4 linked regions of the Homo sapiens genome follow. The protein of the gene in region 2 purifies or fractionates together with the protein of the main gene of each other region. This does not show direct contact. Each region holds a gene or a part of one and is shown on either strand. Other genes may lie near its edges. The genes, in order: LSM14B, BHLHA15, DHX57 and SUPV3L1.

What was found.
Region 1: the proteins of BHLHA15 (region 2) and LSM14B purify together in Homo sapiens (affinity purification with mass spectrometry; 2 studies listed by BioGRID and IntAct, with this or other methods). This does not show direct contact.
Region 3: the proteins of BHLHA15 (region 2) and DHX57 purify together in Homo sapiens (affinity purification with mass spectrometry; 2 studies listed by BioGRID and IntAct, with this or other methods). This does not show direct contact.
Region 4: the proteins of BHLHA15 (region 2) and SUPV3L1 purify together in Homo sapiens (affinity purification with mass spectrometry; 2 studies listed by BioGRID and IntAct, with this or other methods). This does not show direct contact.

The regions. Positions count from the first base shown.
Region 1 is NC_000020.11:62,125,469-62,132,496, reverse strand, and holds part of LSM14B (protein LSM14 homolog B), read right to left. Parts: intron 6,272-7,028; coding exon of another isoform or gene 6,194-6,271; coding exon 6,058-6,193; intron 4,913-6,057; coding exon of another isoform or gene 4,796-4,912; intron 3,573-4,795; coding exon of another isoform or gene 3,465-3,572; intron 2,713-3,464; coding exon 2,545-2,712; intron 2,279-2,544; coding exon 2,201-2,278; intron 1,968-2,200; coding exon 1,806-1,967; intron 1,142-1,805; coding exon 991-1,141; intron 142-990; exon of another isoform or gene 1-141. UniProt on the Homo sapiens protein: mRNA-binding protein essential for female fertility, oocyte meiotic maturation and the assembly of MARDO (mitochondria-associated ribonucleoprotein domain), a membraneless compartment that stores maternal mRNAs in oocytes.
Region 2 is NC_000007.14:98,206,956-98,214,438, reverse strand, and holds the start of BHLHA15 (class A basic helix-loop-helix protein 15), read right to left. Parts: upstream 3,001-7,483; 5' UTR 2,941-3,000; intron 2,184-2,940; 5' UTR 2,130-2,183; coding exon 1,560-2,129; 3' UTR 1-1,559. UniProt on the Homo sapiens protein: Plays a role in controlling the transcriptional activity of MYOD1, ensuring that expanding myoblast populations remain undifferentiated. Repression may occur through muscle-specific E-box occupancy by homodimers.
Region 3 is NC_000002.12:38,858,916-38,865,943, forward strand, and holds part of DHX57 (putative ATP-dependent RNA helicase DHX57), read right to left. Parts: intron 4,605-7,028; coding exon 4,446-4,604; intron 3,419-4,445; coding exon 3,230-3,418; intron 2,923-3,229; coding exon 2,084-2,922; intron 1-2,083. UniProt on the Homo sapiens protein: Probable ATP-binding RNA helicase.
Region 4 is NC_000010.11:69,175,644-69,183,233, reverse strand, and holds the start of SUPV3L1 (ATP-dependent RNA helicase SUPV3L1, mitochondrial), read right to left. Parts: upstream 3,001-7,590; 5' UTR 2,943-3,000; coding exon 2,672-2,942; intron 715-2,671; exon of another isoform or gene 580-714; intron 1-579. UniProt on the Homo sapiens protein: Major helicase player in mitochondrial RNA metabolism. Component of the mitochondrial degradosome (mtEXO) complex, that degrades 3' overhang double-stranded RNA with a 3'-to-5' directionality in an ATP-dependent manner.

The sequences.
Region 1 (7,028 bases), on a different chromosome or scaffold from region 2:
ACCTGTGCTGCAGCACTGGCCCCTAACTGGCCAGTCAGCAGCCACACTTGCCCACCGTCCAACCACTCTCACCAAGGACGCCGTAAAACATCAGACCGCACCACGCTTCAGCACAAAACCCTCTGATGGCTTCCCGCGGCACTTGGAACAAAAGCCAAAGTCACTGCCATGCCCTACAAAACCCTACAGGAACCCATCCCCCAGACTCGGCCTGTCTGGAAGCACTTCCCGCACTCATCTGCGCAGCCTGCTCTGCCTGTGAGAACTGATCATCCACTTCCCATCGAGTTACAGCCCCATCCCATCGCCCTCACTGCCTGGCCTTCACGACATGCTGTTCTATTTTTCCCCTGGCAGAACATGAACCTGAAGAGGTGGCGCTCTCCAGCCTGCCTTCTGAGGCCCCCTCAACGCCCCGCGGCATGTCTGGCGCTCAATCTGCAGGACAAATGGGCCCAAGTTTCCAAGCCAGGCCCACACTGTAGATGCCACCCACTCCCTAGGGTGCTTCGCGGGACTTCTGACCAGCTGTTAGGTGTGAAAAATAAAACACACCACATGGTCCCTGGCCTCAAACAATGAAGTGAAGGAAAGCCAGTGTGAGCACGTTCTAGCCATACCTCAGGCTGCTAAGCAAGGACCTCAGGCTGCCAGGCCAGCGGGACCAGCAAGCAGAGCACCGTGAGGTATGCTGAATGTGGACACGGGTCTGCCGGGGGGGGCGGTGCAGCCCAGCCTTTGTGGGGACAGGGCAGCAAAGCCAAGAGGAAACAGGCTCGACCTCAGCCAACTCCTCGGGTCGGGATCCCCAAGAGGCTTCCCACACGCAACCTGCTGGGACTCCGGCACCCATCATGCAGAAACGCAAGCAGGACCCTAGAACAGCTACCCTGAGCCTCAGAGTCCAGCTCTGCCCTCAGGTTGAGAGCCCTCAGCCCTGTCCTTTCTAGATTGGAGGACTGTCCTCCCCTCATTCATTCAGCCTCTCACCTGGTCTTGAGTTCAGAAGAGATGTTGTCGAAGAACGACTTGGATTTGTCATAGTAGCAGTTGGGCCCCAGAAGGTCTTCCTCAGCGGGCGCTTCGGCACTCTGGGTCACCACAGCCAGGTCCTTCTCTTCCCCCTTCTCAGCCTTGTCATCTACAAAAAGAAGCAGAACACGTGGAGATGGAGGAGGGGCAGAGCGCACAGCCTTTTAGCAGGGTGGTCCCTCCGGGCTCACTCGGAAGCCACCCTCAAGCTAAGACATCAACTATGCCTTGTGCAAAGCAGAAATCTCTTCTTCTACCTTCTAAGTACAGGTCTCGTTCTGCCGTCTGGGCTGTGCAGTCTGCACCTTATCCCACCCATTTTCACACCTCCCAGCACCTCACTTCATTAATTCCTCACTGCCGGTCACCATCCGCCTGGCATCCCCGGTTCCTCTAGGCATCTCTTCCTTTTCCTTGAGACAGAGTCTTGCTCTATCGCCCGGCTGGAGTGCAGTGGCGCAATCTTGGCTCACTCCCACTGCAACCTCCACCTCCTGGGTTCAAACGATTCTCCTGTCTCAGTCTCCCGAGTAGCTGGGATTACAGGCGCCCACCACCACGCCTGGCTAATTTTTGGATTTTTAGTACAGATGGGGTTTCATTGTGTTGGCCAGGCTGGTGTTGAACTCCTGACCTCAGGTGATCCACCCACCTCAGCCTCCCAAAGTGCTGAGATTACAGGCGTGAACCACCACACCCGGCCAGGCATCTCCTCCTAACACTCTCTAGGGGTACTCCTGTGCAGAGAATAATTTTCATATAATGAGCCAAACCTTTAAAATTCAGTTTCTTCTTAAATTCTTTGTCAAGCTCCTCTCGGTTGAACTGGGCATTTGCACTCTCGAAATCAAAGTCACCCTCAAATTTGATTGTGTTTTCCTTAACGTTAGTTGGACGGTTTTGCCCTCTGGAGCGATTCCTTGTTCGCCTGTTTCCTGTGAGGACAAAGGACAGCCCTGGCTGAAGTAGGTCACCAACCCAGTGATCTCAAACACCTCACAAGGAATTTCCAGGCACACCCCCAAGGCCACAGAAGGAACAGAGCACACAAGCAGCGACTTCACACCAGCACCCCTGAAACCGTCAACCAGAGAAGCAGGCAGGAGGGCAAGCAGAGCTCAGCCTGATCACTCGTGGTCCCCAGAAATCAAGTGGCAACAGGTGTTACCTGATCGCCTCCTCTGAGGTCTTCTGTTCTCGTCATTCACCTGCCCTTGAGCTTGCACAGCTGCCGGCTGGACTACATCTACGGCGCAAAAGGGAAGAGTAAGGCAAAGCTCCTATAGCAGCCGGAAGCCAGAACCCAGCTGTGGAAGCAGGCCCCACCACCATGGGGCACGCGGCCAGGGCGGCACCGCAGGAGGCTGCTGCACAGGCCTGCCCTGCAAAAGCACATGGGGCTTAGGATGGGGGAGTAGTATTTTTTTAATTAAAAAAAAAAAAATAGCCCAGGAAGTAGTGTGCCACTTTTAGAACATCAAGCAAACTCCAGGAAATGATGTGTTCAAGTACCGCTGGCCGTCTTGCTGCTCGGCTGGGCCTGACGACCGTTGAGCTGCGTCCCTGTGGTGCCCTTGCCAGGTAACAGCTTTTTAGCATTCAGGTTGTCAGCAGAACCAGTCTGCACAGCCTGCTCCACCATGGGGCTCTTGCCGACTGGGATGGATGGAAAACCAGCTCCTGAATTGAGGAGGGGAGGAGGGTTTAAAAACAGAGAGAAAAGAAGCAAGCCTTATATCTCCAGGCATTTCTCTTCTGCTGGCATGTCAGGAAGGAAAGGAGGGCAACTGCCTAGATGTTCTATCAAATCCAGGCAAAGCACCCCCAGACTGGGCCATTCCCTCTGAGGCTAGCCCAGGCAGCAAAAGAAGGCCAAGAGTCACTGGGCAGCACCAAGGCCAGTTCATCTTTGGACTCCCCACTCCCAAAGCCCTGAGCTTCCCAAGTTAGGGAACCTCAAGGACAGGAAAAACACCGTGCCTACAAACAGGCACCTCCCCAGAAGTGTGGAAACAGCTTTCTTAAAACCACACAAGCTCCAATCCCAAAGGAGCTCAGCAGCCCCAAGATCCTGATGAATTCAGGATCTGAGAATTTGTTTCATTCTGGTCCACACTGGAGAAGAACCAGCCCAGCCTGGGATTTTCTAGAAAATGCAGTGAACAAATTCTGAAGTTAAATTCTACAACACTGTCATTTCCACTTAAGGCACAATAAAACTAAAAATGATGAAGCAGGAGCTGACTTCCGAGACGTAGCAGCCTACACTTCTCTCAAGGGCAAAGGCTCATCATGAAGACACAAAGGGCTCCTAGGTAGCCTTTGGCAAGGGGCTATGCCTATGAAACTGCAGTCCGAGGCCCACGCACAGGGGATGAACCCTCAGAAACCAGGCCCTCTGAATCAGGAGGAAAATGGGAAGCACCACCCACCTCTCTCCATCTCCTCCCTTTCCAAGGTTCCAGGACCTGTAGGGACTCTAAACAGGACAATGTGGGACTGGGTGTAAGTGAACAGAGATCTGAAACAGAAAAGGCACCCTAACCACAGGGTAATTATTATTAGACGAACAGCCCAATACACATGAAGACTGGGCATCTCATCTTACTGCTTTTACGGAATAGAAATGAAAAAAAAAATTGACTGTAGAAAAATTCCTTGTAACCAGATCAAGAGAAGCTCTCAAAGGGCAGGTTGGAACGACTCTGCATAGAGGTCTGGAAAGTGTCCTCTGGCGGGAATGCACCCGGGCCACTTTCTCACTGATTGTCTCACTCAGCATGTCCGGGAGACAAACACAGCACTGCCTGCCTGCTGATCATACTGTGACTGCAGGGGCATGGATAAGGGGCTTGTCTGCTTTTTACACAACCAACTAGTTCAAACAAAGTCTTGCCCTATGAGCAGGTTTAGGTAACTGATCCTAAGAGCAATAGAAGTATCTGTGTCATTTTTAAGTGGGGGAAAAAAAAAGACTACTCTGTAACTCAGATACACAGAGTGCATGCAGGATTTGGAAAGCAGCACCTGCAGAATGACAGACTGACAGCAGCTGTGTGCCATAAGGAAAGCCCAGGCATCAACCTGGACCAGGGCCGGGTAATGGCGATGGTTCAGCTTGTCAGGGTGCTATGTGTAACACAAACATACAGCAAGATCGTCAATATGAATTTTAGAACTTCAGGGGAAATGAGTAGAACGTGAGAAAAGATCTAGAAACCCCACAGGTGCCGCCACCACCACAGCACAGAGACAGGTGGTGTACACTGGCCAGCTGGCCATCAGGCTGATACTGTCCACCTGGCCAAACAGTTGGCGACTGTCACCCAAGCCCCTAATTTTGAATCCCCTCAATGAGTGATCTATGAACCACACGGATCAAAGAGCAAAACAGGCATGTCAGGTGCTTTGGGGAGTCCCCCCTGCAGCACTCTGGAACACATTTAGGACCCAGCAAAAACCCCAGGGAAATGACTTTCTGTGAACAGTGAAGTTTCCCGTATGTGGTAGTCATGGTACAGGTCAACAGAGAACCTGGACCCAGGGAGAGAGAACAAACTACTCCGCTGATTCTTCGTAATCCCTTCTTTAACACTGAGAGTTCATCAATCAGGACTACATGCTGAAGCAAAACAAGCAGCTCAGCGGCTGCATGGGCTTGGCAAATGATCTGCTACAGCTACTGTCATTCTGTCTGCTGCTTTACCCCTCGCTCTCAGAATGGTTTGCAAGACAGCATGCAGTTCTCCCAAACTGCTGTTACCCTTGGCAGTGAGCTGCTGTGGCTCTGAGGACAAGTCAAGCTCTGAAACGGGCTGTGGAGATGGAGAAGAGCTAGGGCTGGAAGCAGCGGCTGAGGCTGGAGGGCTTACCAACTTCTCTAAAGGAAGATAAAGGAGAAAGAGCAAAAAGAAAGCACACAAATAAGTCAGGATACACTTGTCTTGTGTCTAGCAAGCTTGGAAAGAGCCAAGCAACCTCTTGTAGGATTCTGTCATACAAACACGTTTTAGAAACCCAGAGAGCTGGGCTGGGAAGGCCGCCTGTCACACTAGGAATAGCAACCAAGCAAGCATGATTTGTAGCAGCAAGTGGCCTACAGACCTCGTTTAGGGTTCCCTGTCTCACTACTTCATGCTGGATTCTGAGCAAGGGTCGTGGATCACCTGCCAATTCTACACTCTGAGCCCATCTGCAAAGCTAGGTCCAGGTTAAGGACAAGGCAGGATCTTTCTCTACATATGGAGAATAGAATCATACTCTGGGGTTTTTCAATCTTGGTTGAAACCATTTTTGAGCGAGGCACTTACAGTAGAATAAGGGACATGATGGGTGGGTTTGTATTTCACGTCTATATTTACAGGCTTATAAATGTGCAAACAGCTAGACTTCATCTGTAATACTACATATATATCAGCTATTTCTTCTTTGAAGCAGATATACCAGGACTTCCACCTATTTATTTTTTGAGACAGAGTCTCACTGTGCCGCTCAGGCTAGAGTGCAGTGGTGCAATCTCAGTTCACTGCAACCTCTGCCTCCCAGGTTTAAGCAATTCTCATGCCTCAACCCCCCAAGTAGCTGGGATTACAGGTGTGTCCCACCACACCCAGCTAATTTTTGTATTTCTAGTAGAGACAGGATTTCCCCATGTTGGCCAGGCTGGTCTCGAACTCCTGACCTTGTGATCCACCCGCCTTGGCCTCCTAAAGTGCTGGGATTACAGGAGTGAGCCACTATGCCTGGCCCAGGACTTCCACCTAGATCCGCCCTGACTCTTCGAATGAATTTTGATTTGATTCTTCTGTTCCAACACTCAGGCTGCTGCCTCTTTTACTTTCAGTTGAGTAGTTACTAAATGCTCTCACAAGCGGAAGTTGCACTGGGTAATTTACTAAGTGTGCAACAAAACAGTCTACAAGCTGAGCATGACAGGAATGCATATCCCCACCCTCAGGCTCCATCGCTCCACTCAGTGACAGTTACACGCAAGGGTAGTTTACCAGACAGAAACAGGTCACTCACCTAGACCCAGGGAGGCGGCATACTGCTGGCTGAGCAGGGAGCTGGCCGCCAGCGGGCCGTAGGGCGCCATCCCTCGGAAAGGGCTGTAAGGCACGTGCGGCTGGAAGGGCGAGGCGGAGGCAGAACCCAGGGAAGACTGAACAACGAGACATCGGGTGAGAACGGCGAAGGCCATCCCATCACCCCGCACGCCTTCATCAGGGCGCTTGTTCAGCTGGGAAACAAGCACCGTCCCATCAGCCTGCACCCTTGAGATGCTGGAGGAGCCCTTGGGGTGCAAGTTTCCAGTATGGTGAGAGCTGCCTTTTCCACAGCATTTCAGTTCCAGTTTCACCTGTCCATGTAATTCCTTTTTTTGTTTTGTTTTGTTTTTTGTTTTTTGAAAGAGTATTGCTCTGTCGCCTGGGCTGGAGTGCAATGGCGTGATCTCAGCTCACTGCAACCTCTGCCTCCCAGGTTCAAGCGATTCTCCCAGCCTCAGCCTCCCGAGTAGCTGAGATTACAGATGCCCACCACCACACCCAGCTAATTTTTGTATTTTTGGTAGAGACGCGGTTTTGCTATGTTGGCCAAGCTGGTCTTGAACTCCTGACCTCAGGTGATCTGCCCACCTCGGCCTCCCAAAGTGCTGGGATTACAGGTGTCTTGTCCATGTAATTCTAACCCAAATTTCTCCTAACTCAAAGCCATCGGATGGCTTCCCACTGCTCCCAAAGCCGGCCCTGTGTGATCCCACCTTCCAGGATGGGTGCTCAGCACAGAACCTAATGCAGTCTGAACCCCAGAGGAGCTAGTGAATATTTAAATTTAGAAGTGAAGAAAATATTAATCTGGGCTCCCTGGGGGAGCATGGGCAAAATAAGCCATAACCCAATAAGCAGGCACATGGCATCAGACTTGCAAATCTGGTGTTGTATAACAGCAGCATGTAACGACTGGGCGTAACCCGAGGGCAAGCCCTGCAGTCCCTG
Region 2 (7,483 bases):
GAGTGCCCCTCCCAAGGGGCAGACCCAGCATCCTGGAGTCCCCACCCCGAGCTGTGCTGAAGGACAGCTGGGGCGGTAGGGCCAGGACCAGACCAGGCCTCTGACAAAGTCTCATCGAAATGAAACCAATGTGCCCGGGCCACCTTAAGGGGCCCTGACCAGGAAAGTTAGGCCTGAAGCTGCCAATGCCAGATCCTCAGGGTGTTACCTGTGTCCTTACGTGGCTAGGCCTGACCCCAAGTGCCACAACCCCCAACTTGGGGAGGGCAGGGCCACCTGGTGGGGACGGGCCAGCCAGAGCCCTTGGTCTCAGCTGTGGCAGCCACATCCCTGGCCCGGCTTGGCCCTGAGGGCCTTTGGGACATCTCTGGGCAGAGGCATGAGGGAGGGGAGAGTCCAGTAGCCAAGTCCGGCAGAGCCAGTGGGGCAGGAACGCCCAGCAGAAGGAAGCTGGGCTTGGGGCAGCAGAGACGTGCCAAGCCACCAGGCCTGGCCATGAGGATGAAGCACCTGGGCGGGGGAAGGGACGTACCTGCCACCCCAAGGCTCCACCAGGCAGAGAGACCCAACGGGCTGCCAACTCAAACCAGAACCCAAGCACGTCATAATGTCCTACAGACAGCATGGTGCCAATTATATGATAACCCCACATCAGTGAGAATAAGTAACGGCGGTGGCAGGGGCTGGGTGGGGGGCACACTCGCTCCCCACACAGGCCAGGGCTGAGCAGGAGGCCTCAGAGCTGCTCTTGGGGAGCAACCCAGGGCCTTGGGGCTTCTCTCCCATGCCCAGAAGGGCTGCACCAGGAACACCCAGCCCTGTCTCCTGCTCCAGTTCCACAGCACCCCTCACACCCTGCCCCAGACCCTCCACAACCAGGCACAGCCTGGAGTCAACACATCCAGGAGCCCCAACTTGGGAGGAGGGAGGAAGAGACTCCAGCCCCTCCCCACCATTCAACTTTTAAGGATGAATTGGAGGTCATCTGATTAGAGTTTCTGGCAGCTCCAATCATCTCTGATTGGCCCCACTCCCCGAGCAGCCTTAGGCTCTGCCGGGCTTGTCCCGGGCCTCAGTTTACCCCAAATGAGGATGCTGAGCCCAGGCCCCATGTAGCCCTATAACAAAGGTTGGAGAGGGGGTCCTTGCTGGGGCTTTGGCCTTGGAAAACCTGCAGGTAAACCTTTTCCTGGGATCTCCCCTTGCCCAGAAGTCAGGGTGAAGAGACGTTAGTTCCAAGGCTAAGGAGGCCTTTCAACTCGGGCTGAGACTGCCTGGCTCAATGAAAAATCAGGATCCAACTGGGCCCTACCTAGAGGTTTGGGCCTCACGCCGCTGTCCAGGGCCACAGCCGCAACTAGGCCACTCGCTGGTCCCCAGCGGGGCAGGAAAAATTGCTCCAGGGAAGTGGCTGAATGTTCGGGGGAAAATGGAACCGCTGAGGCCGTGTCCTTGTGGGGTGTCACCGCCCATCTGGGGCTCGTGGCTTGGAGGGACTGGGGCTGGGAGGAGCAGGCCAGGCAGCTGCGGCCACCGCCACCCCCACCCAGGACTGGGCGCTAGGTGCCCTCTCGGAAGCTGTGGATCTGCGTGGAGTACCTCTGCAGGTGGCCCTGGGGCTGGGCCTCCGTGGCCCCCAACGCACCCCCAGCCACCTGCTGCTGCTGCTGGTAGTGCTGGTAGAGCTTGGGGCCCGGCCCCTCCAGGCCTGGGAGGCGGCTGCTGGACATGGTCAGGATGGTGGCCGTCAGCGATTTGATGTAGTTCTTGGCCAGCGTGAGCGTCTCGATCTTGGAGAGCTTCTTGTCCGCGCGCACGTGGGGGATGACTTCACGCAGGGCCTGGAAGGCGTTATTTAGCTTGTGCATCCGCTGCCGCTCCCTCTCGTTGCTCTCCAGCCGCCGCTGGATGCTGCTGTCACGACGGCCACCGGGCCCGGAGGGTCCTGGCCGCCTGCGCCTGCCCTCGCCCGGAGCCCTTGCTGCGGCCCGGGCCGGCCGGCTCCGCAGACCCTTGGCCGGCTCTGGCCCCGGGTTCGGCAGGGACCCGTCGGGCGTCCCCTCCCCGGGGGTGGCCTCTGTGTCCTGCACCGGGGCCCGGCGCCGTGGGGGCCGGTTCTTGGTCTTCATGGCCCTGGACTGGCTGTCCTAGGAGGTGGCGGCAGGAAGGTGAGGCCCTTGGAGCTGAAATCCAGAACACAGGACACTCTGTGGTCACCCCACATGGGCAGGGGACCCGCTGGGGTGCCGTCCCTGGCAGCCTCCTCCTTGCTGACAGCAATGGTACCAGGGGCAGGGGTTGGCGCTCTGCGACTGGAGGTCCTTCTGTTCACACGCTTAGCCCTGGGCTGACCCCACACACACCCACGCCCTTGCTTTACCTCAAACAGACCTCTGGAATCTGTCCCTGTCCCTGCGTCCCCCTTCCCCCAGGATGACTCATCCTGACCCCTAGATCTTCCTCTGGCTCATGCCCCTCACTGCCCCCAGAGTGCCTCCTGAGCTCGGTGACCTTTGACACTTTGCCTAGAATGCGTCCCCCACCCTAGCTTAGGGGGCGCCTCTGCCGGAGGCGGCACTGACTTCATCCCGTGGGCGGGCAGTGACTCCAGCCACCAGGCTCTCACTGTCCTGCCCCGCTGGACGTGACACGTGCAGGGACAGCACTGGGGCCAGAACCGCTGCGGACATGGGACAGCACTGGGGCCAGAACCGCTGCGGACATGGGGCAGCCGTGGAGGTCAGAGGTCGGCAATGGCCAGGGCCTGGCGGCAGCCCCCAATCCCACCACGTGGATGGGCCCCGTGGAGCCTCCAGACAGACCAGAAGTCCCCCACCCGGGTTTCCCCACAGCCCCCACAACCCCCACAACCCCACCGCCAGGTCCTGCCCCTGGGTCCCCTCCCCGCGGCCCCACCCGAGTTCCCAGCTCCCGGGTTACCTGGGGATCCGCGGCCACACGCGCCGAGGCTGCCCACGGGGGACAAGGACACGTCGCTTTAGCCGCCCCGGGAGGGGCCGCGGACGCATGCAAATGAGCCCTCGGGGCGGGGCCGGGGCGGGGCCGGGGTCCGGGTGTCCCGGCGGGCGCTGGGCAGCAGTGGCGGCACCTGCGGGCGGGCGGGCGGGAGGCCGGCGCCTGGGGCTCCCGGACCAGGTGGCCGCGCAGCCCCGCCCCCAGCTTCCGCCCCGCCCCCAAGATAGAAAACCTCCCCCGCCCGCCTCTCCCCATCCTCCCCCTACTGCCCCCCACCCTCGTCCCCCAAGACAGCCACCCCCGCCCGCCTCTCCCCACCATCCCCCGACAGCCCCCGACCCTCGTTCCCCCAGACAGCCTCCCCCACACGCTTCTCCCCATCCTCCCCCGACAGCCCCCCAACCGCCCCGAGATAGCTTCCCCCCATTCGTCTCTCCCCATTCTCCCGCTACAGCCCCCCCAAGACAGCCTGCGTCCCCACCTCCCCTACTCCCGTCCCCCGACAGCCTCCCCACAACCTGCTTTTCCCCATCCTCCCCCTCAATTTCCACTCGCGCCTTTCCCACCCGCCTACCCCATATCCGTGCCCGAGACAGCCTCCCCCCGCCCGCTTTCCCCGACCCTCCCCCTGACACAGCACCCCCGCATCCATGCCTCCCGCGATCCTCCTTGCCCGGCCTCTCCACTCGTGGCGGGGCCCGGGCCCATTCCGCCAATGGGAAACAGGTCTCTGGGAGCCGCCGGAAGGAGGGGCAGCCCCGATTCAGGCTCAGCACACAGATCCCAAGTCCCAGGAGCACTCCGGGACGAGCCGCTCCGCGAAAACGCGGGCATCTCCCAGGGGATCCCCCGCCCCGCCGCCCGGGATGTTTAGGGGAACCTGGGGCTCCTACGGGCTGGGGGCGGAGCCCGAGTTGGGGTGGGGGTGGGGGGCTCCTTGGGCAGGTGTGCAGTCCTTGGGAACGCCTGTTTTGTTTGTTTGTTTGTTTTTGAGACGGAGTTTCGCTCTTGCTGCCCAGGCTGGCGTGCAATGGAGCGAGATGATCTCGGCTCACCGCAACCTCCGCCTCCCGGGTTCAAGCGATTCTCCTGCCTCAGCCTCCCGAGTAGCTGGGATTACAGGCATGCACCACCACGCCCAGCTAATTTTTGTATTTTTAGTAGAGACGGGGTTTCTCCACGTTGGCCAGGCTGGTCTTCAACTCCTGACCTCAAGTGATCCACCCGCCTCGGCATCCCAAAGTGCTGGGATTACATGCGTGAGCCACCACGCCCAGCCAAAGCAGCATCTTGCTCAGGGACTATTCGGGGCTGCTAGGGGTGCGGTGACTGCACGCTGCTGGGGGTGCGGTGAGTGTCACGCTGGCTGGCAGGCCTGGGCTCCACACTCATGGGTCTCGCCGCTCTGTCTCAGTACCTCTGGGTGGGAACTCAGAGGGGCCATAGTGGGGCGGGGGGCGGGCACAGAAAGGCTAGCTTGGAGCCAAGGTTAGTTAGTTCTTCTCTTGGCCTAAAGCTCATTTGAGGCTGGGCCAAATGAGGTCCTTGGAAATGAAAATGCTTCCGAAATTCATGAGTGCAAAGGCATGGTTTATAGACATGCTTCAAGGTGGCAGGAACACTAAACAGGTTTGGTTTTCCAGTGGTTATACAAAGCTTTATGTCCTCAGGAGTGCGGGGAGTTTAGGTCTGTCACACAAGCTCCAGAGGGACCAGGGCAGGGGCCTGGAACACAGGCTGCGGGCGCTCACAGCAGGGCAGGGCCAGGCCACCCACCCAGGTGGCCCTTGCACGGTGGACAAAACACAGAAGAAACGCGGCCAACAGAGTTTATAAATATATAACTATATTTATTTTGAATATTAAATAGTTTTTAAATTACAAGCAATTTATTGAATCACACTATGCATCAATATACAGTAAAAATCTTACAATTTAAAAATGTACACAATTTAAACTGAAAGTTCATTGACTATTATATTGCCATGAACCTCTTCTGCCTGTGTTAAAGCACAGCAGGGAGGCCTGGTGGGTGTGACGGCCCCCTACGTCCTCCTCTGCAGACGGAATCCGACGGTGGATCCATACACCAGCCCCATGATCAAGATCCCGCTCGGCCCACGTAGGCCTGAGTGCTTAACCAGCACGTGTCCACACCGGTCAAACTGATCTTCACAGGCTGTTGGTAATTCAACACTGTCAATGCATCTTTAAGAATTTCTTTATAGATGAAAGAGAATGTTCTTTGTTAATAAAGACTTGAGCCAACCCCATTGCTACTTAGGAATATTGTTTTGGAGATTTCCATCGGAAGTCACTGCGTATACCCATTCTTTTTTTAAGGCTACTTCCCATAAGGCTCATGTTTTGAAGCCACTCTAACAGAAGCCCAACCTCTGGCGTCTAACCCTTGGTTCACTTCTGAATTTTCAGATGATGGGCTGAGTTAAGGAAGAGCAGGCGCTGCCTTCCTTCCACCGGGGCCCTGGGGACAGGCATGCAGTAGGTCCTTAACTCTACAAATACCTTATTTCGGGAAACAGGAATAAAAGGAGGGGTTTGGAAAGGCCTTTTACAGCAGCAAGACAAACCAAGACTTTTCTTAGATAAACCCATTTCTATAGAAACGATCGAACCTGTACATTTAAAAATAGAACGAACGTTGTTTGCAATTCGGCTTGGTCGAGCTTTCTGCACCCTTACGGTGAATGGCTTCTCGTCCACACACACAGGCCAAGTCTCAGAAGGATGTGGGGAGCACTTTTTCTGGGTTGCCCTTTCTGGCTTATTGACAGGGTCATTCAAAAAGACAAATTCGCATCTAGCTAGTAAGGAAATGAAAACTAGATTATTTTTGTTATAGGATTTAAAATGTACAAACTCCACCAAAACAGGACTAATTCAGATTGATTCTGGGTTGCTACCCCATAGAAGGCCAGAAAATATTCTAACCTTCCCCCACATTATCTAGAGAATGCCACTGATTTAGTTCATTGTACAACTTATTAGAACAAGTACATTTTGAAAACCCACCACTGATAACCAACTTATTAGTTAAAAAATAACAAAACAAACAACAAAAACCTGAACTGAACACAGCACATGCTGACATTTCAAAAATGGGCTGCAATTTTTATTCTACTTAAATTTCCTGTGTATTGCTTGGATTTCAAAAAAACATGTTAACCCACGTGTTGATTATAAATATAAAATCTCGCCCCTCCATGCAACACCACACTAAGATCCACTACCCCCCAACTCAATGTATAAAATGCTTTTTTGGCAATTAATTATGAGTGACTCAAAATAAATAAAAATGGGAATTATGTTATGAAAAAAATTGTTTTTTTTTTTGAGACAGGGTCTGGCTGTTACCCAGGCTAGAGTACAGTGGCATGGTCTCAGCTCACTGCAACACCCATCTCCTGGGCTCTAGCCATCCTCCCACCTCAGCCTCCCAAGCAGCTGGGACTACAGGTGCACACCACTATGTGCCCCAGCTAGTATATATATATATATATATATTTTGTATTTTTAGTAGAGACGAGGTTTCGCCATGTTGCCCAGGCTGGTCTTGAACTCCTGGGCTCAAAGTGATCCGTCCGCCTCGACCCCCCAATGTGTTGGGATTGCAGGCGTGAGCCACCGCGCCCGGCCAAAATCTTAATCCTAGTGGAAAACTGACAGCCCCAAAAGGTTAATAAATGTACTCGAGGCTGACACTGTATAAGACGACGACAGATTCCATGATCTGTATGACTTTGGTCATTAAATCTGAACTCCTTAAACCTGCAATTGAAAAAGTAGTATAATCACGTCTCATTTCTCTTCAGCCAAGACTAATCTTAGATGTAAAAACTGAGAAAACTCAGGAAGTCCCCACAGCAAGAATTCAGAGTCATGACAATTTTGGCAAAATCATCTTCTAATGCCCTGTTAATTAAAAAAAAAAAAAAAATTCGCGCATCCCGAGACAGTGGTGCTCCCCACATAGCCCAGGTGGGCACCGCATCCACCCCATGCCTACACAGGAGGGGACTCTCTCCATCCTGAACTTCTTGCTTTGGAAAGTTATTGCTTAGTATAAAAAATGAGAGGAGTAGGGTGGAACTGGCAATGAAGGTCATTTGCTGCGCACTCTCTGGCAACGTCCGCCTGCATTTTGCACTAGGACTCAACTTCCTTCCGTGTACCCCAGGCGGCCCCTGCACGGGTCTGGAGAGCACCCCAGGTTGCGCTGGAGTCTGGAAACATATCAGCACCGGAAAATATGTTGGGTGAAGGGTGAGTATGAGGGGACTGCAGGCCCAAGGACCCCCGAAGGAACGGCTGCCTCCCCAGCACAGCACAGCCGCGCTGCACCAGCCACCGAGGACTTCCTTATGTCAGAGCAGAACTCAGGGAGGGAGGTGTGAGGTCGCCCATGACCACAGGGGCTCGTGACGATGTGACGAAGCTACACTGGGAGCACTCGGGCCCTTTCAAAGCCAGAAGAGAACCTGGGGCT
Region 3 (7,028 bases), on a different chromosome or scaffold from region 2:
TCAACAACAAAAAGTCAAAATGGAGAAAAAGTGAAAACTTGAATAAAGTAAGTTCATTCATTTCTAGTATTTCTATTTCTAAAGAACTTAAAATGCATCCTCAAATAAACTTTTATCAAGCACAAACAAAGTAATTAGCATTAAAAGAATTAGCAGTGAATGTTTCAACTGTACGCAAGTGTCCCCAAATCCCACAACGTAAAACAACACAAATATCTATCAAATGATGAATCAATGAACAAAATGTGGTATGTCCACATAATAGAATATTATTCACTAATAAAAAGGAATGATGTAGTGATATGTGCTAGAACACGGATGAACCTTGAACACATTAGCTAAGTGAAAGAAGCCCATCTCAAAAAGCTGCATATTGTGTAATTCCATTTCTATGAAATGTCCAGAGTAGGCAAATCCATAGAGATAGACAGCAGATTTGTGGTTATGAGGGGCTGGGGGAAGGGGAAAATGAGGAGAGACTGCTATGGGTACATGGGTACAGGGTTTCTTTTGGGGTTGATGATAACGTCCAGGGATTAAAAGGTGGTTATTGTTGCATAATTCTATAAAAATACTAAAAACCATTGAATTGTGTATTTTAAAAGAGTGAATTTTATGGTATATAAATTATGTCTCAATAAAACTATTATTTTAGAAAAAAAGTGCATGACACATAATTTTCATTTCCCAAGGAACACATTTGAATCCCATGCGCTAGAAGCTGCCATCTGGGAGTGGGTCGGGTGGTTAGTGAGTGAATCTGGCTAAATGACCAGCAGCCACATCTCAGAACAGTGTCACTGTTCTCTACTCATTGAAGTTTACCCAAGGACTCTCATGAAATAATACAAACTTTTGTTTCTCTGGAAGAAAGATAGATGGCAACCAATAAAAGAGGATCCTTTTTTTTTTTTTTTTAATTAAGAAATAGAGTCTCACTCTGTCTCCAAGGCCGAAATGCAATGACTCACTGCAGCTTCTACCTCTGAGGCTGAAGTGATTCCCCCACATCAGCCTCTTGAGTACCTGGGACTCAGAGGAGTGCACAACCATGGCTGACTAGCTAAGAAAATATATATATTTTCTAGAGATGGGGTCTCATTATGCTGCCCAGGCTGGTCTCAAACTCCTGGGGTCAAGCAGTGCTCTCACTTCAGCCTCCCAAAGTGCTGGGATTACAGGCATGAGCCACCACACCCAGCAGAGAATTCTTTGAAAGGGGCTTACTTGTGGTGTAAGAATCTGCATAGCAGCCCATGTGCGATGGCTCACGCCTGTAATCCCAGCACTTTGGGAGGCCAAGGCAGGCGGATCACCTGAGGTCAGGAGTTCAAGACCAGCCTGGCCAACATGGTGAAACCCTGTCTTACTAAAAATAGAAAAATTAGCCAGGCGTGGTGGCGGGTGCCTGTAATCCCAGCTACTCAGGAGGCTGAGGCAGGAGAATCGCTTGAACCTGGGAGTCAGAGGTTGCAGTGAGCTGAGATCATACCACTGCACTCCAGCTTGGGGGACAAGAGTGAAACTCCATCTTAAAAAAATAAAAATAAAAAGAATTTGCACAGTAAACCTAGATCTAGACAAAGCTAGAAGCCTGCACAAGTATTTGAGGATTTAGGGATTCATAGAGCTATCCCTAAAGAATTCTGGGGGTCTAGTACACCAAAAGCAGGAGGGTATGGATAGTGGTATAGAAAGCAAAATATCTCTAAAAATTCATTTGAAAGTAATTCAGTATACAGTATAAGAAGTAAACAAAAGAAAACCAAATGAATTAAATAAAACAGATTTTCTGAGAACGTACCTTAAGGTCCTTCCAAGCCTCGGATTTTATATAGTTAAACATACGTCACTACAAACTTTCAACTCAGGGAGCCCAACCACAGCAACACAATTGAGCCTTACAATTAAAGTCAGATACAATTACAGTTCAGGGAATTCTCATTCCCTTTTGCCCTTGGGACTTAATGGCTTGTTCAGCTTGTTCAAGATCACTAAGCCATCCTAGACCAGCCTTAAAGGCTTTGACTTCTAAACCCATCATTCTGAATGCCTCCCTCCACAAGATCAATGCCTTACATACCTTCTGGAATTTGATTAGAAACAAAAGAATTATTTGGAATCACTGTTTTATGACAGGCAGGATTATTTATTCTGGTCCTAGAGGGTACTGGCAGAAAGTTCACAGGAGGGTCACTATACTTGTGGTGGGTATTCGTTAGTAACTTGACTATTTCCGACTCTTCCTCTAAAAGGGTTATCAAAGAATATACGACAGGTTCCGAAGTTTCCGCAAATGTCAAGGCCTTGTCATAAAGAAACTCAGAAATATGTAAACGACAAGCCAGAGGTAGGTTCTCATTGGTGGAATAAAATGCCACGAGCGGAGCTTGGTAGGGATATTTGTGGTCTTTAGAAAATCGAATTTCAAGTTCATATAAAAAAGATGCATCTTCAATAGCATTAAGATGAGAATCATCTACACTTCTTTCTATTCTTCCAACAATTTGATTTGGGGGCACTTCATGTTTGAATCTGCATTTTGATCCAAATTTACAATTTCCTTTGAGGTAAAATTTACAGATTTCAAGTGAATTCTCTTGTACATTTTTGGTACTTTCTTTTGGCTTGGATTTGCGGAATCTACTTGTCAGATACTCCAGTTCTAACCCAATGGTCCAGACTCTGTTCTGAATTCTTTCTATAAATTTTTCTCCACAGATGGACTTGAGAGCAAATGCCTCTTCCTGTCGCTGTTCCATACACTCATCCAAGCTTATCTGGTTGACTGCCTCAGAGATCTTCATCCTCTCTCCAAATGTCTCTGAAAAACACTGGGTAAGGAGATGCTCTAGTGATGCTCCCACATCTCCATCACACATCCTCAGGACCGCTTGACAGCGTTCAGTATTGAAACCATACCTGTCAAGGGCAAAACATGACAAAAATGACACATAAAAAGCAGTATCACACCATTACAGTAAAATTCATTTAAATATGCTTAGATGAAGTTATGACTACACATAGGCAGGGCTTGTATTTTGAAAAAGCATCCCTGATAACAATAAGCCCCCCTGAATGACCCCTTCTGATAAGATAGAATATTAGGCCTATCAGGCATTGCTGGAACCCACATAATAGGAAAGTACACAAAGAGGGGTAGTGGGTTTATATGATTTCGGTTTCCTTGAATTCTTTCCCAACTCCCATAAATGATCAAAGCAATCACCTGGAAAGTTTTTGCACTGCAAATGGGGAGACTGTAAATTCTGGAACATAAGGCTCCACTGAGGCTAAGCCAGCATATTCCAAAGGATCCAAGTCGGGAACGAGGGAAGGTTCCTGTCCAGCTGGCCAGTACCGCTCATCGTTACAGCAATCAGGCTCATCATCTTCCTCCTCCCCAGAAAGGCCTCTTCTAGCAAAGGCAACATTTTCATATATTAGATATTACTTTCTACTTACTTCAAAGAAAAATTTAGCAAAGGTCTAAGAATTTAATTCATAGGATCCTGACTACTCTTCAGTTGCTGATTTAATCTTATATTGAACTATTAATTTATATCTTGGCAATTAACATTTACCAGGCATTTATTAAATACCAGTTACTGTGTTAAGTGCTTTATATGAACTAACTCCTTTAATCTTCCCAATAACTGTACCAAATACTACTGGAATGTCCTTTTTTTTTTTTTTTTCTAGATGATCAACTAAAACTCAGAGAGGATTAGTAACTGCCTAGGTTACACATTAAGGAGCAAATAGAGATTTTGCCAAAGGCAGACAGATTCCTGTGTTCTTAACCACAGAAACCTTGGCTATTCTCTCTCTTCTCATTCATAAAAACACTATCCCTAATTGTTTGTTTTGCTACATAATCTCCCTTTCTAAATCTAAAACAGATAAGAGATTTGTAGATAGGATGGAAAATGAGCTGTTCATGACTGGCCACTAATTAATTTTGGTAAATGGAAAGAAGGAATTAACTTCTCCAACTGAAATCCAAAGCAAAAGAGCCGAAATGCAGTAGAGTGGGAAACGAATAAGATTTAAGAGTAAAAGCTTTCTCTTAGGCAGACAGTCATGACAAGCAAATCCTAAGACTGCACCTGACCGAGTCAATATTTGCTCATTCAACACTACTTCTACTTGTTCATTACAAGGGTTTATCTGGAAGGTTACAGATAAATCAGTTACTGAATCCATATGAGCACTGCCCTGGAAAAAAATAAAGATAAAAAGGCAATCCCATGGATGTTGCAAAACAAACTCACTCTAAAATTGTGGCTGAATAATTATTCTTGTATTACTCTTGGCTCACTTTCAACTAATTAAATGGCCACAATAGAATCAGTACTGACACAGCATTCCAAAGATGCACAGGACCTTCACACTGCCAGTATGTTTTCCTTAATATAATAATTGACTCAAATAAAACAATTTACTCAGATCCAGCATCAGCATCTTGTTCTTGCAGGTCTCGGAGAAGAGCTTTCACTTTCTCTTGATTCTCAGAAGTCATATGTAGAGTCTGAAGGGGTACTTTGGCTTTGGGTTTCCATTTTGGGCGTGACTCTCCTTTGCTTATGTTACTGTTGCTAGGTCTATAGAGAACAAAAGAGCAAAATTACACACATATCTTCAATCAGAACTTTTACACTCTCCTCAGGGGTCCCCAGATATACACAATACAAACTGGATTGTCAAGTATCTTACAAAAGATGACAATGAATGTGAGGAGATTCTCCATTTTCTATAGTATTTACCAGACTTCATTATATCAGACCTGCTGGAAAAAAACCTTATCAGATTCTTGGCCAGGCGCAGTGGCTCACGCCTGTAATCCTGGCACTTTGGGAGGCCGAGGCTGGCGGATCACCTGAGGTCAGGAGTTTCAGACCAGCCTGGCCAACATGGTGAAATGCTGTCTCTACTAAAAATACAAAAATTATCTGGGCGTGGCAGTGCGCTCCTGTAATCCTAGCTACTCAGGAGGCTGAGGCAGGAGAATCACTTGAACTTGGAGGTAGAGGTTGCAGTAAGCCAAGATTGTGCCACTGCACTACAGCCTGGGCAACAGAGCGAGATTCCGTTTAAAAAAAAAAAAAACAACAAAACTTAACAGATTCTTAATCATTAATTCTGGCTTCACTAACTCAAGAATCCTTAGGAAAAAGCAATGCTAATGATGGTTTCCTCTGCACTATAGGACATGAAGAGCATTTCATTTCATTCTGCATTAAAATCTGAAAACCACTGAGTTTCATTCTTCCTTGTGAATATTAAGGCCCCATTTCTAAAATACCCAATTATCTTTATTTCTGATTATTAAAAAAAAAAAAAAAAAGGCCAGGGGCATTGGCTCACACCTGTAATTCCAGCACTTTAAGAGGCTGAAGTGGTAGGATTGCTTAAGCCCCAGGAGTTCGAGACCAGCCTGGGCAATATAGCAAGATCCTGTCTCTATTTAAAAAAAAAGAAATAAAAAAATTACACAGCATATATAATCTCTTATGATTTGTCTGATCATTAGGAAATGATCAGTTAAACATGAGGGGGAGTTGGGAGTTTCACATGCTCCTATCTTAAAGTCATCCTTTATCTTAAAGTCAGCCTTTCTATTTGTAAACTATATGCCAATCTCTTTAATCTCCTCAAGGAAATCATTCCAGCACTTATCCCCCTTTCTAAATCACTGGTTTTTCATTCTTCTTTGGATCATTCCCATCAGCATACAGACATACTATAAGGTCTACCCTCTTAAAAAAATGAAACCAAGCCAAATCCTCCCTTGAGTGCACATCTCCCTGTAGCTACTGACCCATCTCTCCTCCCTCTAGCTCCCTTATAGTAAAACTTCTCATTTAGGTTATCAAAATCATTGTCTCTGTCTCCATTTTCTTTCCTCTTCTCTCTGAAACACAACCCAATCAGTATTTCCTATGCTACTACAGCTCTTGTCAAGGTTAACCATGATACCCACATTGTCAAATGCAGTGGACAATTCTTAGTGCACATTTTCCTTGACCTACCAGAAGCATTTTTCCACAAATGTGTACCCTCTTTAAGCATACAATTCGATCTTATTGGCTACTCTCCTTTAAAACACCTTTGTCCCTTGGCTTCCAAAAACCACTCTCTTAGTTTCCTACTTCATTGGCAGCTCCTTCTCAATCCCCTTTGTTTTTCATACTTTCTCTTAGCTTTATTTATTTTTTAACTAAAAATTTTTATTGACACATAATAATTGTACATTCTTTATACGGTTGATAATGGTTTGGCTGCAAGTCAAATCTCATCTTCAATTGAAGTTCCCATAATCCCCACATGTTATGGGAGGGAACCGGTTGGAGGTAGTTGAATCATGGGGGCAGTCTCCCCCATGCTATTCTCGTGATAGTGAGTAACTTCTCACGAGATCTGATGGTTTTATAAGGGGTGTCCCCCTTTACTTGGCTCTCATTCTTCTTTCTCCTGCCACCTTGTGAAGAAGGATGCTTTTGCTTCCCCTTTCAGCATGATTGTAAGTTTCCTGAGGCCACCCCAGCCCTGTGGTACTGTGAGTCAATTAAACCTCTTTCCTTTATAAATTACTCAGTCTTGGGTATGTCCTTATAGCAGCGTGAGAATGGACTAATACAGGGGTACATGTGCTATTTTGATACATGCATACAATGTGTAGTGATCAAATCAGGGTAATTAGGATATCTAACACCTCACACATTTATCATTTCTTTGTGTTGGGAACATTCCAAATTCTCTTAGCTTTAAAACCTAGAGTGTCCCAGGGCTCAAACATCAGATACCTTCTCTATTCGATTTTATCCAGACTCAGAACTTTAGCATTTATCTATAGAAGACTCACACATTTACATCTCCAGCCTAGATCTTTTTCTTGAACCTCAGATTTATATATTAAATTATCTATTTTATATCTACACTTGGAGAACATCTCCTAACTGGTCTCCTTGCTTTCAACTCATGCCCCTTTATAGTTTATTCTCTACAAAGCACACCCAGTCAATGCT
Region 4 (7,590 bases), on a different chromosome or scaffold from region 2:
AATCCAACATTTATGAGGTAGAATCAACAAGACTCATTAACTGGGCTTTCTCTGATTGTTAGATGTAGGGGTGAGGGATGGAAGAACAAAGACTACCAGGTTTTGACCTGAGCACCTGCAGGAGCAGGCTGAGGGGAAGGTAAGTTGTCTTGACATGCTAAGGTGAGGTGTGTGTAAGAAAGACAAGTGGAGACACCTGGTAGGCAGCGAGATATATAGGTCCAGGGTGAAGGAGAGAGGTCCAGGGTAGAGACAAAGATCTGAGAGGAATACTGAATTAGTGAGGGGAGAGAGAGAATGAGACACCCCATAGACAGCACAGAATAAGGCAGCAAGGTGACGCAGGACAAAGCCTTTAAGTACCTCAACTTTTTGGGTTATGAGTAGGCAAAAGAGATTGAGAAGTGACAGCTTCTTGTCCTGATTGCTAAGCTAAGTGGAAATCTGACACCTTAACCACATGGCTATATCAGAGTGTAGTAATGCACCATCTTCTGTAGCCCCTCCTGCCATGCTGAAAAATCATTCTAGTAAATTCAACATCTGGACCAATCCCAGTCAAAGGAGATGAAAAATCACCTGGCACACAGACCCAATGAAGTATCTAAGGATTCTCCACCAGAAGAAAATCTAGTGCTGACAAACCCATGTCTTTATTCTATCTTCTTACAGGAAGCAGCAAAGACATTTACATTTTCAGGTGAATTGGAATAGCTGCAGAAAATAAGAATTTATCAATATTTGAATACAATAAGGCAAATTATCTCATCCAAATTACCTTATGCCTTCAAATAATATAAAATAATGGAAAATTGTTCTTTAATGGGTAAACTATTGTTTGAGTTTCAACTCTGCAAGATGAAAAAGTTCTCATCTATTTCGCGACAATGTCAATATACTTAACGCTAGTGAACTATGTGCTTAAAAACAATTAAGACTGGCTGGGTGCAGTGGCTCAGGTCTGTAATCTCAGGGCTTTGGGAGGCCATGGCAGGAGGATCCCTGGAGCCCAGAAGTTTGAGACCAGCCTGGGCAACATAGCAAGACCCCATCTCTACAAAAAATTAAAAAATTATCCAGGCATGGTGATGCACGCCTGTATTCCTAGCTACTTAGAAGGCTGAGCCAGGAGGATTGCTTGAGTCTGGGAGTTGGAGGTTACAGTGAGCTATGATCATACCACTATACTCCAGCTTGGGTAACAGAGCAAGACCCTGTCTCTAAAAAAAAAAAAGTAAAGAAAAAAAAACTAAAAAAAAGCTTAAAAGAGTAAATTTTATGTATTTTTATAATTTAAAAATAAATAATAGTATAATTACATTATTAAAATAACACATTCTCTGCTATGGTTTGAATGTCTTCTCCAAGACTCATATTGAAATTTAATTGCTATTTTAACAGTTGAGAGGTGGAACCTTTAAGAGGTGATTAGGACATGAGGAGTTTGCCTTTGTGAGTGGATTAATGCCATTATCACAGGAGTCAGTTATCACAGGAAAAAAGGATAAGTTCAGCCCCCTTTCTCTGTCTCACAGGCTCATTTGCCTTTCCACCTTCCACCATGTGATGATGCAGCCAAAGGCCCTCATCAGATCCCGGCTCAGAACCATGAGTCAAATACACCTCTATTGTTTATAAATTACTCAGTCTCAGGTATTATGTTATAACAGCAGAAAATAAAGACAGTCTCCCAGCACCAAGTAAAGTGAAAGGCCTTGCTTAACACTGGAAGAATATGTCAAAGAATAACATATACTGTGAGTTCCATCACATGTTTAGTGAAAGTACTGTACTTCTGCTCTGAAAAACATATTGTAGTCTATATTTTAGATTTACAATAGGAGGCACCAATGTCGCTTGTTGAAGTGAGACATTTCTCCTCCTATTCCTGGAGACAATTCTGGATAGCATTTCCTCAATCTCCCAGTTTCATATGGTCAGAGGAAACTCCCTTACCTCCCTAATCATCCCGAAACTCACCTTGAAAACATTCACATGCCTCTCTGTCAACGAATCCATCCAAACTTAAGTTTTGCTGAGCAAAGCCCGCTGCCACTAACTGATGCTACCTCTTCTTTTCTCTCTGGAGCCGGGGACACCCTACCTTGTTCTAGACCTTGTCATGTTCTACCTTGTATTACAGTTCACTTTCCATACACGTGTCCTCCCCCACGATACCGTTACGTTTCTTAAGAGGGGATCTGGATCTGAGTCTGGTTCCTCTTGGCAACCACCACACAGCCTAACAGCGTGGTATGAGTCGGCGCCTCCTCAATGATAAAGAATCCTAAAAGGAGTCTCCGCTGGCTTTTCACTGCCACATCCCATTCGGGGGTGGGAGAGAAACAAAGAATGCAAGAAAGAGCGGGCGTCCACCTAACAACTCAAAAAAGTCAAATCTTCCCAACACATGAGTGTCTAAACCATTCAGAGAGCAGGGCAGTAAAAGGGAAAAGGCCGCTTCTGGGACGAGGCGTTAAGAATTAATCAGATACAGTCCTAAGCCGTTTGAGGGGCTCACACACCAGCGAAGGAGGCAGACACTGAGAGGCACGATGACAACACTCGATGGGACCTCGGATCCCCAGGGGAAGGGGATGTAGCTTCCTCCCAACCAGCCTCGGCCCAGCAGACACCACCCTCTGCCGCCCTCAGTAGTTCCCGCACTCACTCTTGTCCAGAGGCCGGGTTAGCTCGGCCCCGACGTCGCCGTCGGCGCTGGGGCCCTGAGGTTTCACAGTCAGGGGCACGAACAAGGACGTGTTTGGTATTTTGGAGCCACCGGAGGCAGAGGAGGAGGCGGTGGCAAGGACAGAAACTTGCCCCAGAACCCCGGGAAAGGGCCCAAAGTGGGGACGAAGGGCAGAGCAGATGGCTGCCCGGTGGCCAGCCTGGCGCCCCGCCGGGAGCCGAGCCCACAATAGGGCACGGGAGAAGGACATCGAGGCCGCAGGTTCTACACTGTCTGGCGCAGCCGCGGACACGGCGGCGGACAGTGACGCGCACCTCCAGCGCCTGCTGTCCAGAAAGACCCAGGCCGAGCAGGTAAGCTGCCCGGGAAAACGCCTGACCGTTAAGGAAAACGCCGTGCCGTGAGGGTGTTCTTTCAGGGAAAAAGAAGATTAGCAGGCAAAACCACTAGAGATAATTCTCGTTCTCTTTCTCTGTTTTGTTGGTGATTGGGACCACCTTTCCCTAAAGAAGGGAAAATAATCAGGCATCTTTGGGATGTCATACATGAGCGGAGGGGGCCTGCTAGTCGTGTCACGTGATGCAAACTAGTACTTTGGTAAGCAAGTGTCCAGAAGCACGTGGGTGAGCAGTGAGAGAATGGGTGGTGGAGCAGCAACTGCGAATGCTCAGGGTACGAGTATGTCTTGCGGACTCAAACACTAAATAGCATTTCCCAAAAGTTTCTTGCATTGTTAACCGTCATTTCCTGATATGATAACGTTAGCGATAATAACTTGATATGCCCCTCAGAAATGTTGCTAAGAAATATTGTTGCACTATTAAACCCCTTGTATTACGTAAGTACTTTTGCTTTAATGTGAGCAGTTTGCGTACATCATCCTAGCAGCTATGACCACATAGTTGTGACCACATGGCAAAAATACGTGCTCTGTACCCCAGCCATAGTTTCGTTCCATTGCATTTGTTGAATACCGTGTTCTCATGTGAGGCTGCAACATGTTAAATTCACAAGTTTAACCCGGGCGTGGTGGTTCACGCCTGTAATCGCAGCACTTAGGGAGGGCGAGGCCGGTGGATCATCTGAGGTCAGGAGTTCGAGACCAGCCTGGCAAACATGGTGAAATCCCCTCTCTACTAAAAATACAAGAATCAGCCGGGCGTGGTGGTGCACACCTGTAATCCCAATTACTAGGGAGGCGGAGGCAGGAGAATCGTTTGAACCTGGGTGCCAGAGGTTGCAGTGAGCCGAGATCGGGCCACTGCTCTCCAGCCTGGGCAACAGAGTGAGACTCCGTCTAAAAAAAAAAAAAATTCACAAGTTTAGCATCTCCATCCACATCTCTTTATACTTACATCATTAAGATCTTACAACTTGAAGGAACGTGTTATGTAATATACAATACTGTATGTCTAATAGGATTCCAGTAACAATTTGCCACGTGCCTTTGATTCACAAAATAATTTTTAAACATCAGGGATACAAGGAGACAGTCCTTTGCTTTCAAAGGTTCTGATCTGGTTTTGGTGGTAAGAACAGTACACGTTAAATAATGCACTTATTACTCTAATAGACTAATGGCAGTTCAAAGAAAGGAGCAATTTGAGAGTGGTAAGGAGATTTCTGCCAGACTTAAAAGTAAAACATAGAGAAGCGGTAAGTAAATTCTAGTCAGTGGAAACGATGTAAGCAGAGGCTTAACTAAGGAAAAGACATACTGAAAAAAATTTAAGTAACAGAGTTAACGCAGACCTAATTCTATGGCTTACAAATAGTGATTATATTTTTGAGAAGAGAAATCATTCATTAGGAAGTACCTAGGATAGACTAGGATAAACACAAATATGCAGGGAGGAAAATTACAACTTTATCAACAGTTCTAGCTGAAGGTGGTAGATTCCTGTGTCTGAGTTATGATGGAGACCATGTATGTGGAATGAGAGGTTTTACAAGACTCCTTAGATAATGTAGTGAGTGACTAAATATGCTAGAAAATGTTAATAAACAATGATGTCTCGTCAGATTTGGAAACTAGGAGAATGAAGGATAAACCAAACGTTTAATACGTAACTGAGGCAAGCACTATGTTGTTCCTTTTAATCTTTTAATATGCTTGACAACAATTTAGAGGTATTATTGTCACCAGGTTAACTAACTTGCCCCAGTAAGTGGTAGAGTCAGATACAAATCTAAATCTTTTTTTTTTCTTTTTTTTGAGACAGTCTCACTCTGTTGCCCAGGCTGAAGTGCAGTGGTGCAATCATAACTCACTGCAACGTCCACCTCCCAGGCTCAAGCAATTCTCATGCCTCAGCCTCCCGAGTAGCTGGGACTACAGGCTTGCACCACAATACCTGGCTAATTTTTGTATTCTCTTTAGTTTCACCATGTTGGCCAGGCTGGTCTCAGAACTCCTGGCCTCAAGTGATCCAGCTGCCTCGGCCTCCCAAAGTGCTGGGATTACAGGTGTGAGCCACCGTGCCCAGCCAGTCTTTCTGATTTCAAAGCAAATAGGTGGGCTTTTTGGACAGGAGCAGCATATTAGGCCAGAATCAACATTTGTACGAGTCTTTTTTTTTCTTTGGAAGGGTGATCGTGAACTCCTGGGCTCAAGCAATCCTGTGTCAGCCTCCTGAGTAACTGGAACTACAGGTGCATGCCACAGCACCTGGCAGTTACTAGTCTTACAGATCTAGCCCAACCCTAGTATAGTTTTACAGAAAAAAAAAATCCTCAAAACTATTTTAACTGTAATTTTGTTTGCACCTCCTTGCAGGTAGAAAATGCAATCTGAATTTTATGATAGCACATACAGGCTTTCCCTTTCAGCCATTCATTAAGTTCTACTATAAACATTGAAATGGGAAAATTCAATATAAAATTTTTGCTTTTACAAAAAAAGATGTCATATCTATACTGGTTATGTCATATTTATAGCAGTAAGTGTAATCAGCACCTAACACATATTAGAGCCTCTATAAATGTTTTATTTTGCTTGTTGAATGGATTAATGCAGTAACTATGTAACTGGTATCCTCCTATACTTTGCCGTAGCACCATAATGATCTTTTGAAAACACAAATCTGGTAAGTTACTCCTGCTTAGAGTCCTTTGGTGATTCTGAATAAATGTTCAGATAAAGCCCATATTCCATCGTATGGCATCCAGGTTCTGTCCTAAATTGGTTGGCCCTATATGCCTCTTCCAGCTTTATTTCTACTCCCCACATCTACCATTCTATTCATGCTGGAACTATACACCAGTTATATCATCGTTTCTTACCTCTGCACCTCTGAACACACTGGGTGCTTCTCTTACATATCACAGGTCCCAGTAGAGGCTCTATCATAGAATGAAAACTATCGTAATTGTGTCTCTGGGTCAGTGGTTCTTAAACGTTAGAGTGCAACAAGATTGTTGGGCCCCATCCCTGAAGTTTCTGATTCAGTAGATCTGGAGTGGGATCTGAGAGTTTACATTTCTAAAACATTTCAGATGATGCAACTCTGCTGGTCTGAGACCACACTTTTGAGAACCACTGCTCTGGATTAAAGTTCCTTCAGGATAGGGCCAAGATAACACTTACTCCATTTTGCATTGCTATAACAGAACACCACAGACTGAGTAATTTGTAAAGAAAATGAATTTATTTCTTTTAGTTCTGGAGGCTAGGAAGTCCAAGATCAAGAGGCTGGCATCTGGTGATGGCCCTCTTGACATAACCTGGTAGAAGGCATCACATGGCCAGAGAGCAAGACCTGTGTGTCAACTCAGGTTTCTCTTTTCTTACGAAGCCACCAGTCACATCATGGGGGACCCACACTGAGAACTTTTATCTAATCCTAATTACTTCCCAAAGGCCTCACCTCCAATCAATATATGAATTTGATGATTAAGTTCCAACACAAAAAATTTAGGGGACACATTCAAACCATAGCAAGCACTAACTGATAGTCTGTAAATATGCTAAATCCATGCATGAATACGGAAATAAATAGAAGGGGAAAGGAAGTGGGAGAAGATAACCTAGGTGGCAGAAATAATACAAGTTAATTTCTTCTTCGCCTTTGCTTTTGCTGTTTTTTGTTTTTTGTTTTTTGTTTTTTTTTTTGAGACGGAGTCTTGCTCTGTCACCAGGCGGGAGTGCAGTGGCGCAATCTCGGCTCACTGCAAGCTCTGCCCCCTGGGTTCATGCCATTCTCCTGCCTCAGCCTCCCGAGTAGCTGGGACTACAGGCGCCCGCCACCACGTCCGGCTAATTTTTTTTGTATTTTTAGTAGAGACGGGGTTTCACCGTGTTAGCCAGGATGGTCTCGATCTCCTGACCTCATGATCCACCCGCCTCGGCCTCCCAAAGTGCTGGGATTACAGGCGTGAGCCACCGCGCCCGGCCTGCTTTTGCTATTAACAAAATCTGGTGTAGGTTTCACAAAAGCACATCCTGTAGATTACTCTCTCATACCTTGTCTACCAAATTTTGTAAGTTGAAGTTTCTAGTATTTTTCTGACATTAAGGTTATCATGATCTAGACGCTAAACTGTTGCTTATCCTAAGTGAACTTTTAAGATTTACTCTTGGCCGGGCACGGTGGCTCACGCCTGTAATCCCAGCACTTTGGGAGGCCAAGACAGGTGGACCACGATGTGTCCAGAGTTTGTTCCTTCCAGTGGGTTCGTGGTCTTGCTGATTTCAAGAATGAAGCTGTGGACCTTTGCAGTGAGTGTTACAGCTCTCAAAGGTGGCATGGACCCAAAGAGTGAGCAGCAGCAAGATTTATTATCGTGAAGAGCGAAAGAACAAAGCTTCCACAGCATGGAAGGGGACCCAAGCGGGTTGCTGCTGCTGGCTGGGGGCTGGGGTTGGGGGGTGGCAGCCAGCTGTTATTCCCTTATTTGTC